Homo sapiens: one gene and its partners. The protein of the gene in region 3 purifies or fractionates together with the protein of the main gene of each other region. This does not show direct contact. Each region holds a gene or a part of one and is shown on either strand. Other genes may lie near its edges. The genes, in order: KDM6B, ZNF384 and TDG.

What was found.
Region 1: the proteins of TDG (region 3) and KDM6B purify together in Homo sapiens (affinity purification with western blotting, with the first as the bait; one study listed by BioGRID). This does not show direct contact.
Region 2: the proteins of TDG (region 3) and ZNF384 fractionate together in Homo sapiens (co-fractionation; one large-scale study listed by BioGRID). This does not show direct contact.

Annotation. Positions count from the first base shown.
Region 1 is NC_000017.11:7,840,680-7,844,403, forward strand, and holds part of KDM6B (lysine-specific demethylase 6B), read left to right. Parts: intron 1-2,959; coding exon of another isoform or gene 2,960-3,185; intron 3,186-3,724. Other genes in the region: translation initiation factor IF-2, read right to left, coding at 2,960-3,185. UniProt on the Homo sapiens protein: Histone demethylase that specifically demethylates 'Lys-27' of histone H3, thereby playing a central role in histone code. Demethylates trimethylated and dimethylated H3 'Lys-27'.
Region 2 is NC_000012.12:6,682,661-6,686,384, reverse strand, and holds part of ZNF384 (zinc finger protein 384), read left to right. Parts: intron 1-1,069; exon of another isoform or gene 1,070-1,187; intron 1,188-3,724. UniProt on the Homo sapiens protein: Transcription factor that binds the consensus DNA sequence [GC]AAAAA. Seems to bind and regulate the promoters of MMP1, MMP3, MMP7 and COL1A1.
Region 3 is NC_000012.12:103,972,372-103,975,871, reverse strand, and holds part of TDG (G/T mismatch-specific thymine DNA glycosylase), read right to left. Parts: exon of another isoform or gene 2,850-3,500; coding exon of another isoform or gene 2,839-2,849; intron 1-2,838. UniProt on the Homo sapiens protein: DNA glycosylase that plays a key role in active DNA demethylation: specifically recognizes and binds 5-formylcytosine (5fC) and 5-carboxylcytosine (5caC) in the context of CpG sites and mediates their excision through base-excision repair (BER) to install an unmethylated cytosine.

The DNA of each region.
Region 1 (3,724 bases), on a different chromosome or scaffold from region 3:
TCTCTGTGTTGTTCTTCCTCATTACATATGGGGTTTCTCGAGTGGGACTGTTTTCTTCTATGTGTCTCTCACTATTTTGCTTGATGTTTTGCACATTGGGGTGCATGGTGGATTTGTGTTGAATAATGTTAACTGAATGAGCTTCATTATGAAGAACCTATGACTTCTGAGATTTGCTGCACAGCCTCCTACTTTATCCTCTAGAGGACGTGAGACATTGGGGATGGTAACATGGGTAGAGCTGAAAGGAAGGTTGACCCAGGAGATGGCCTGTGAGGATAAAACCAAGGGAGGGAGAGTAGGACAGAGGCAGTACATAAGAGTGGTAAGAATGTGGCTCTGGAAAGAAGCCTAGCTCTTTCATTCTTCACTTGCAGAATGACTTTGGCCAAGTCACCTAGCCTCTCTGGGCCTCAATTTCCTCATCTGTAAAATGGGGGTAATCAGAGTACCTCCTATGTCAGGTTTTGGGGAGGAGTAAAAGAAATGCTTGTAAAATACTTAATACAGTGCCTGGCATGTAACAAATATTCACAAAATGCTAGCAGTTATCACCACAGTGGGAGCCACAGGGAGCTCTGAGGATAAGCAGGGATGTCGAGGGATGGGACAGAACTTGATTGAAGGCAGACAGACCTCCAAATTCTTGACTCAGACAGAATGATCACTGATCCAGCGAGACGTCAGGATCGAGAGGAGTGTAGCAAGGAGTCAGGAGGGTGGGCCTGCGCCAGTGTCGCCCCGACTCTGTTCAGTAACATGAAGGCAAACACAGAAGGGCATGTGCGGAGACACACGTGATCACGCTAGTGATGCAGAGGCAGACCCAGACAAAAGACCGAGACAGGAGCTAGGCAGACACACAGACAGAGACAGCCCCGCGGAGTCATGTAGACAGGGATAATGACAGGAACGCGTCAGACACAGGCACAGAGGGAGACAAGATGAGCAGATATGCAGGTGCACGCGGAGACAGACACCGGGACCCACGCACAGCCGACCGTGTCAGACAGACTGGTGAACACAGCGCCCAGTCAGAGGCAGACACAAGGCCTGCAGTGACACATAGCGGGCCGGGGCCGGCACCGTCACTCCTCGGTGGGGGGCGGGGAGGGGCCGGCAGCCGGGGGAAGGCTGGGGAAGGGAATCCCGGGCGGGCGGCCTGCCCGGGTGGCTGAGTCACAGCGGAGCCTCAGCCGGCGGCCCTCCCCTCCGCCTCCCCCTCCCCCAGGTAAGAAGCGAGCGTGTAACCCCTCGCTTCCACCAGGCGTGATGAGGACGGGCAGGGAGCGGGTTGCGACGAGGGTCCTGGACCGCCCCACCTCGGCGCGCGCGCAGCATGCCCGCTGATTGCCGGCTAGGTAAAACCCTATCTGCGGGCTCTTGTCTCTGGCCGTCACGTGAGTTTGCGTGCGCACTTCAGGCCTCTTACCACGCGTCCCGCGCGGCTGCGGCGCTGCGCGGAGGGGCTCCTCGGCTCAAGCCCAGAGAGAGTTAAGTGGGTGTGATTGATGGAGTGTTCTCTCTTGGGGCTCCAGCGGGGGCGGGGGGTAGGGGGTCGGTTAAAGTCCCGAGTCCAGGGCCCGGATGGAGGGGGCGGAGCTGGGCTTCGCCGGGAGTGCCCGGATGGAGAGGGTGTGGCCTCGGCGGGAGCGGAATTAACCCTTTCAGAGCCGCTGGCTCCCGAGGTTGTGGGTCGGGTCGGGAGAGGCTGGAATGTCTGCCTCAGAAGTATATCGATCTCCCAGCCTGGCTCTGGCCGCGTGCGTCTACCTCTCGCCTGTCTTCGAGGAGTCTGTGGGTGTCAGTCTTTGTGCCTGTCCGTGGTTCCCTTCCCTTGGTTAGTATAGACACCGGGAGTCAGGGAGGGCTATTCTTGCCCCAGAGCGAGAGTGGAGGTGAGAGTGGAGCGCGAGCTGGCGGCGACTGGGGAACAGGTGCAAGCGCCGCGTCGGGGCTGCCCGGCACGGGGAGGGGCCATCGTGGGGGAAGACGAGAGGGGAAATTCCGCGGGACCGGTGGTGAGCCGGTGTGTGGGCTGAGGAGTTGTGTCTGCCTCTGACTGTGTGTCTGTGTGTGTTCAGGGAGGCGGGGGCTGAGTCAGTGGGAAGAGGGGAAGGTTTTCTGGGTGACTCACGCTCCCCCACCCCAAGCCTGAATCAGACCCCGAGGGAGGGCTTTGTACGGGGGGCGGGGGGGCGAGTGAGGAGTCCAGCGCCTGGGTCCCGGGTGCGGACAAGGATCCGAGGTGGCTGGCGAGAATGAGTGTGTGTTTAGTGTACAGGAAGTTTTGTCTTCAAGTGAGGGCTTTGTATTCTTGGGTGCTGGCGTGGGGCTTTGTGGATAAAGGTGGAAGAGCAGGGAGCTGGAGGGACGGCACTCACTGACTTAGGGAAAGCTGAGTCAGTTCCCCGTGGGAAAGGGGAAGTGGCAGAGGGGAAGTGTCATCATCGCCGAAGGGGAAGCTGCCTTTCCTGGTAACTGGCGGCGCTCTCGGGACCACTTCCCAAGCAGGCATCTGCCCCTCTGTTGTCTGGTTCCCCGGCTCCCCCTCCACGTCTGGTTCTTGGGTCTCCTCCCCGCCCCTGCCTCGGTACTCGGGTGGGGGCAGTCACGGAGGGCCATACTTGACCACAGTTCAGCGCCGTACCTGGCTTGGTTACTGATGGAAAGGATGCTGCCTCTAGTGAGGAGAGAGTTCTGACAGTAATACCACGTGAACCGCGGAGAGGGTCCGCGGGGCCCAAGCGACCACAAGGGCTTGGCGGAGAGTGGCACGCAGGGACCTGTAGGGTCCAAGCGCTTCCATGCAAACAAACGACCTTGCCCCTTCGGGAAGGAAGGCTCTTTTCACCAGAAACCCGTCTGCCCTTGTGGGCTGGGTGGAAATTTCCCCACAGCGCAGACTTCTCTCAACGAACGCGAACTTTCCAGCCACCCCCAGCCCCTCGTCGCGCACTCTCCCCCGGCTTCCTGCCCGGCGCTCGCTCCAGCTGGAGCGCTGGCCCCGCCCCCGCGGCTTTGTACTCGACACTCGCCTCTCGCTGCTCTTTGTACTCTAGACTCTCAATGGACCGATCCCGGGAGCCGAGTCGGCTCCCTACCTGCGGGGACGCCGGGTAGGCAAGGAGGAGGCGCGGGGACGCAGCTCCTGGGCTCAGAGAGGCGAGAAGGAAGAGCTGGGGCTAAAGGGAAGGTGCCCAAGAGAGGGGAGCGCTGTGCCAGTCGGGGGTCCAGTCGGCACCAAAGCGAAAGGGTGGGGGGGGCGTGAAGGAGGAAGTGAAACGAGTTCTGGGTTCTTTAAGGGAGTGGGTGGTGAGAGTGGGACAAGGGTGATGTCACTGCCTGTCGGGCCCCGCCCTCCTCCCTCCCTCAGGACCCCCCCCCCCGCAGTACATTTACACACACCGCTTCCGCTGCGCAAGTAGCCACGTCACGGGCAACCCCCGAAATCCCCCCTCCCTTGGGGGGCGGGGGCCACGTGGGCCGTGGGGAACCGCGTGGCCCCGGCGGGGAAGGGCAGAGAGGATACGCGAGCCACGAGAGAGGGGCCACTCGGGACCGCGGTGCGCGACTTCTCGGAAGTTGGGGGACTAAAAGGGGTCTGATTTTGGGGGTCGGTCGGTATTGAAGACCCAGAAAGCCAGGGGAAGTAGAGGACCTGGAGGAACTGGGTATGAGACTGGGGGCTTGACCAAGGTTTGGGTCGGGGTCAGGCGTTGGG
Region 2 (3,724 bases), about 97 Mb from region 3:
CTACTTGGGAGGCTGAGGCAGGAGAATTGCTTGAACCCAGGAGGTGGAGGTTGCAGTGAGCTGAGATCACGCCATTACACTTCAGCCTGGGCAACAAAATGAGACTCTGTCTCATAAAAAAAGAATTCAGAAGTCTTGATTCCCAAGGCCATTCTCTAGCTACTGAACTTGATGAGTGTATTTCATGGTTTTCTAAGGGTTGGTTGTGTTAAGGGAATGCTGTTTTCTTGGGGAAAGAAAATCATGCTTTATTTGAAAAAACAACAGTAAAAAAACAATTAGTGGGTTCTGGGAAAGAGATGGTGGTCTTCACCATATCTGCCAAAAACACCTGCTGGAGGCCATGTCATCTTTATCCCTGGATGGTTGGTAGCATTACGGAAGGATGTGGTCAGATAGACAAAGCTCTGGGCCAAGAGTTCAAGTCCTACCGTGTTTCACGACTATTATTAATACTTGATAGTGTCTCTCTTCTTTATCTCCTGAGGGCTTCTGAGATTTGAGATTGGAGAAGGAATATGTAGTTCCTTGTGTCTCTTAAGAGAAAATTACTCTCCAACTTAATTAGAGTAAACCTGCCTTCTTTTTTTTTTTTTTTTTTTTTTTTTGAGACTGAGTCTCGCTCTGTCGCCCAGGCTGGAGTGCAGTGGTCTGATCTCCTTTCACTGCAACCTCCACTCCACCTCCCAGGTTCAGGCAATTCCCTGTCTCAGCCTCCTGAGTAGTTGGGATTACAGGCGCATGCCACCATGCCCAGCTAATTTTTTGTATTTTAGTAGAGATGGGATTTCACCATGTTGCCCAGGCTGGTCTTGAACTCCTAAGCTCAGGCAGTCCACCTGCCTCGGCCTCCCAAAGTGCTAGGATTACAGGTGTGAGCCACCTCGCCCAGCAGTAAACCTCCCTTCCTATTAACAGAACAGTTGAGGCTTGGTGCAATAGTAAAGTTGATATGAGAACCCAGATTTTCAGCCTGCCAGCATTTTTCTTTCCACCAAATTATATCTTTCCTTCTCTTCTGTTTTTTCTTTCCTTTCTATTTCTTTTTCTTTTTTTCTTTTTGAGACAGGGTCTCACTCTTTTGGCCAGACTGGAGTGCAGTGGCGTGATAATGGCTGACTGCAGCCTCGACTTCCTGGGCTCAAGCAATCCTCCTGCCTCAGCCTCCCAAGTAACTGGGACTACAGGTGTGAGCCACCATGCCCGGCTACTTTTTTAATTTTTTGTAGATACAGGGTCTCCCTATTTTGCCCAGACTGTTCTTGAATTCCTGGGCTCAAGTGATTCTCTTACTTTGGCCTCCCAAAGTACTTTCTTTAAATATATAGGCATAATCATTAAAATTGGCACTCTCTGTGTAGACATGAGTTTTCTGTGTAACATCAGTGGGCTTCTTTGGGTGATAAGAATGTTGATATGTGCCTGATTGAATGTTGGGATGATTTGGAGAAATTTCCTCCACGAAAGATAGAGTAAGCGGTAAAACAGACAGTAAGCAGATATTTGAGTGATCTGGCCCCAGAACGCCCTGTTACACAACTCTAGGGGGCGCCATTTACATTGTATTCTAGCAATAGTTTTGATTCTTAGCTCTCCATTGATCTCATTTCAGGAGTACAAAGATGAAGTCAGCCTCATCAGTAGCACAGTGGCATAGCATTTCTCAGGTGTCATTTTGCTGGTAAAGGTTGCTTATAGTTGGATGAGCAGTTCTCTCTGTGGTCTCCCTTTTGGGCTGACCTATTTATCGGAAGCTGGTAACGCATATGTAGTGTCTTGTCCTTGGACCAGACACACCAGTTTATTGGATGCAATAAACTAGGCATCCAAGTAAGTGGAGGGGCTTTTTATTTATTTTCCTTTGTAAAGTCCGGCCTCTTTATTCAGGCTCTGTCATCCTAAAGTAAGTTATCTTGGTAGCTAAGTGAGGTTTCACAGAATAAGGAATATGACCTTGAACTGCATGTCATTTTGCTGTTATCAAAAACTTCAATTTTGAAAACATTTTTTGAGAACTAGCTGGAAAATAGTTCATTCCTGGAAATATTCTAAATTTTATTTCCTGGATCAAGCCATAACATCAGAAAGTGTGTACTACAGTTATATGGTTTTGGTTCCTTGTAGAACCCCTTTCCTTAACTTGCCCTTTGGTGCCTGGATTCACATTCCTGCTTTGCTATTTACTGTTGGACTCTGTGCCTCCAGTTTCCTCATTTCAAATGGGAATTACAGTACCTACCTCATTGTTGCAGGGACTAAATGATGTAGTAGTTGTAAAGTGCTTAGAACACTACCTTGAACACAATAAGTGCTTAATAAGTTTTAATGATAATGATAGTGGTGATATTGTCCACCAGTTTTTTTTTTTGAGACGGATTCTCACTCTGTTGCCCAGGCTCGAGTGCAGTGGTGCGATCTTGGCACACTGCAACCTCCACCTCCCAGGTTCAGGTGATTCTCCTTTCTCAGCCTCCTGAATAGCTGGGACTACAGGCGTGCGCCACCATGCCTGGCTAATATTTGTACTTTCAGTAGAGACAAGGTTTCACCATCTTGGCCAGACTGGTCTTGAACTTCTGACCTTGTGATCCACCTGCCTTGGCCTCCCAAAGTGCTGGGATTGCAGGCATGAGCCACCGTGCTCAGCCTCCTCCTTCCTACGTTTTCACATCCATAGTGCATTTACTTTACTTCCTTGATTCTTTTTTTTTTTTTTTTTTTTTGAGACAGGGTCTTGCTCTGTCACCCAGGCTGGACTGTGGTGGTGCAATCTCGACTTACTGCACTCAGGTGATTCTCCTGCCTCAGCCTCCCAAGTAGCTGGGACTACAGGTGTGTGCCACCACACCTTGCTAATTTTTGTATTTTTATTAGAGATGGGGTTTTGCCGTGTTGGCCAGGGTGATCTTGAACTCCTGAGCTCAAGTGACCCACCTACCTCGCCCTCCCAAAGTGTTAGGATTACAGGCATGAGCCACCACACCCAGCCAACTTCCTTGATTCTTTTGGGAAAATTATACATTGGCCCTTTCTTTCGTTTATTCTCCCTCCTAATTATTATTTTTAATCTTTTTTATTTTATTTTATTTTTTTTTTGAGACAGTCTTGCTCTGTTGCCCAGGCTGCAGTGCAGTGGTTAGATCTCGGCTCGCTGCAACCTCCACCTCCTGGGTTCAAGCAATTCTCCTGCCGCAGCCTCCTGAGTAGCTGGGATTACAGGCGTGTGCCACCATGCCTGGCTAATTTTTGTATTTTTAGTAGAGATGGGGTTTCACCATGTTGACCAGGCTGGTCTCAAAGTCCTGACCTCAAGTGATCCACCTGCCTCAGCCTCCCAAAGTGCAGGAATTACAGGCATGAGCCACCACACCCATTCTCTCCATCTTAATTCTCTACTTAATTCCCACCATTTATCACCACTCTTATCTCTTGTCTGTCATTTCTTTCCACTAGAAGGTTAGACAGGGATTATGCATTGAGACTTGAACCCCTAGCATTGTCTGCAAAATCTATATGTAGGTAGTCTACCGTTGTTCAATTCATTAAATATGTAATTGTGTCTTAGGTGATAAAGTCGTATGTTGGGGATATTTGTAAGATACAGATGTAAAAGATGTGATTGCTCCTTCCCAAAAAGTTTGGCAAGATTGAATTCTCTTAAACTGTGATCTGATTGTATCTTGATTCTGTTGCCTGAAAACGTGAGACTCCCATCTTTGCTTTG
Region 3 (3,500 bases):
TGACCAACATGGCAAAACCCCGCCTCTACTAAAAATATAAAAATTAGCCGGGCACAGTGGCATGCACCTGAAGTCCCAGATACTTGGGAGGCTGAGGCAGGAGAACTGTTTGAGCCTGGAAGGTGGAGGTTTAAGTGAGCTGAGATTGTACCACTGCACTCCAGCCTGGGTGACAGAGCAAGATTCTGTCTCAAAAGAAAAAAAAAATGGTGATTAGGTCAAGAGGAGGGCTCTGCCTTCAGGAGTGGGTTAATGCTATTATCACAGGAGAGGGTTCCTGATAACACGATGAGTGGATGAGTTCAACTCCCTTTCCTATCTCTCTGTCACAAGTGCTGCCTCACTGTGTGATTCCTTCTGCCATTTTATGACGCAGCAAGAAGCCCCTCATCAGATGTAGCCCCTCCATCTTGGACTTCCCAGGCTCCAGAAGTAGGAGCCAAAAAAACCTCTACTGTTTATTAATTGCCCAGTCTATGGCATTCTGAAACAGCAACACAAAATAGATTCAGTCACTAAAGAGAAACATGAAATGGATATTTTGTAAACATGTGTTGAATTTATGAAGGAAAAAACCTCTAAACCTCTCTTCTGAACACGATTTAAATTTTGTTCAAAGTATTCTGTTCAAAGGAAACAATGTGGGCTTTCAAAGAAAACAATTAAAAAAAATACTTCTCATGGCCTTAAACCACTATCTCATGGTGTTGCTGTTAGCATAAAACCAGAGAAGTAAACACATATTTGATGAAACTCAAGTTACAGCAAATGCCAAATAATGCCATTAAATAGGCAGGAGAAGAAAAACAGTAGAAAATAAAATGGAAAAGTTTGCTTTACTATTTGGAGAGGAAAGTCATGTTTTCTTTTTCTTTTTCTTTTTTTTTTTTTTTTTTTGAGACGGAGTCTCGCCCTGTCGCCCAGGCTGGAGTGTGGTGGCGCGATCTTGGCTCACTGCAAGCTCCGCCTCCCGGGTTCACGCCATTCTCCTGCCTCAGCCTCCCGAGTAGCTGGGACTACAGGCGCCCCCACCACCACACCCAGCTAATTTTTTTTTATATTTTTAGTAGAGACAGGGTTTCACCGTGTTAGCCAGGATGGTCTCAATCTCCTGACCTCGCGATCCACCCGCCTCAGCCTCCCAAAGTGCTGGGATTATAGGCATGAGCCACCGCGCCCAGCGAAAGTCATGTTTTCTACTGCAAGATACTATACTAATCAGTTTTCATTCTCTATGATATTCATTGAAAGAGAACAGGAAGCTCAGAAAGCAGATTAAAAAGGGAAATGAGGCCAGGCACGGTGGCTTATGTCTGTAATCCTAGTGCTTTGGGAGGGCAAGGCGGGAGGATCACTTGAGGCCAGGAATTCAAGAGTGGCCGGGGCAATATAGCAAGATCGCCACCTCCACAAAAAAATTTTAAAACATTAGCTGGGCATGGTGGTACATGCTGACAGCCCCAGCTGCTCAGGAGGGTGAGGCAGGAGGATTGCCTGAGTCTAGGAGTTCAAGGTTACAGTGAGCGATGATCACACTGCTGCACCCCAGCCTGGGGGACAGAACGAGACTCTGCCTCAATAACAACAACAACAACAACAAAAGAGGGCAAATGAGTACACTTTAAATGGATGAACTATGTAGTATGTAAATCATATCTCAATAAAATGGTTAACAGGAAAAAAAAAAGGCAAACTAAAGCATTTCCTGGATAAGCTTAAATGGCCTGGGGAAACAAAGGATAACAGACCACCCCCAGCGGCTGGGCTAAATGTTGGCAGCTCAAGATAAACAGAAGCCCAATCCCAATGGACAAACCACTGGAGAGGCATTTCCACTTCCAGCTATCTTTAAGGGTAGGTTGGTAAAGCAAAGATTAAGAATGAGTGAGAAAGAGATTAACCTGTATCATAAGAGTTTTATTTCTTTTATTGTTCACAAATTAAATAAAAATAAAGTTATGACTTAGTAAACTACAATACATTAACATGAGAAAATACTATGCAGCTAAAAAATTAAGTTTATTTATCTTATGTAAAAGAACAGGAAAGAGTTTATATATATTTTAAAACAGAAAAGAATACAAAATAGTATAACTAAGGCTACACATAAGGGAAAATATGTAGACAGGGACTAGAAGTTAAGATGTAGAACTATGCTTAGAAGCATACCTGGCACAAAGTAAAATGTCCTTTTTTTCCATAGTTTTATTTAATATTATTAGTAGCTCTATGCAATAAATTGTTAAAATATTGGTTGTTCAACATTCATGATTTAAATATTCTAATGATGAGTTGGATATGGCTAGGTTAGATCTGGAAGTCTTGAGCAGTGGTCCTATGGCAATTCTAACTAAAGAAACTGCAAGTTCTGACTGTGGTCAGCGGCAGCTTCCCGAGATTCTAATAGCACCTTGATTTAGCTTGAATATATAGAAACAAAGGCATATGGTGACAATAAATGAGCGAGCAAAAGAATGCATGAGATGTGGCTGGGTGCAGTGGCTCACGCCTGTAATCTCGGCGCTTTGGGAGGTCAAGGCGGGCGGATCACCTGAGGTCAGGAGTTCAAGACCAGCCCGACCAACATGCAGAAACCCTGTCTCTACTAAAAACACAAAATTAGCTGGGTGTGGTGGCGCATGCCTGTAATCCCAGCTAGTTCAGGATGCTGAGGTAGGAGAATCGCTTGAACCCAGGAGGTGGAGGTTGTGGTGAGCCGAGATGATGCCATTGCACTCCAGCCTGGACAACAAGAGCGAAACTCCGTCTCAAAAAAAAAAAAAAATGTATGAAACGTGTTTTTACTCTGTCACATGGTCAGGAAGGCAATCTACCTACCACTCTCCCATGTTTCTTACTACTACTCTCAGAATTTCACATGTCCCATTTTGAGCACTTCATGAAAATGCAAACTGAAAATACATAAATTAGGGAGACACCGTTCACATTACAACAGGATTCTTTACTTTAAAAAAATTTTTCAAAACTTTTAGTATAGTCGGAGGTCATTAATCATCTTCAGAAATTCTGGGGTTCAGAAGCTGAAAATCAAAATTCTAGAAATCACAGTTGGCTGAATAAAAAGTGAAAAATAAAGAGGAAAAATAATCTGAACTTTTATATTAGGTATATCAAGTTTGAAAGAAACCTAGAAACTTATCTATAATAATGAAATATCCCTTAATCTTTCTAAAAATGGACTGTGGCATTTTACAAAAAGTTAAATTAGAACAGGTAAAGGAAAATAAACCTATGGAAAATCAAATGTGTTAGTTCTGAGGAATACACTATCTTCGAGCATTAAACTTAGTTTGTTTACCTCAACAGCTGCCTAAAAGCCAGAATAAAAGATGGTGGATTACAACATTCTTATTCCTTGGCAGAAGCAAGCATTACATCTACACAAAAATCTTCATAAACTTGAATGCTAGTTAACTAAACAGTTCTGGATAACTGGCCGGAAACAGTGGCTCACGCCTGTAATCCCAGCACTTTGGGAG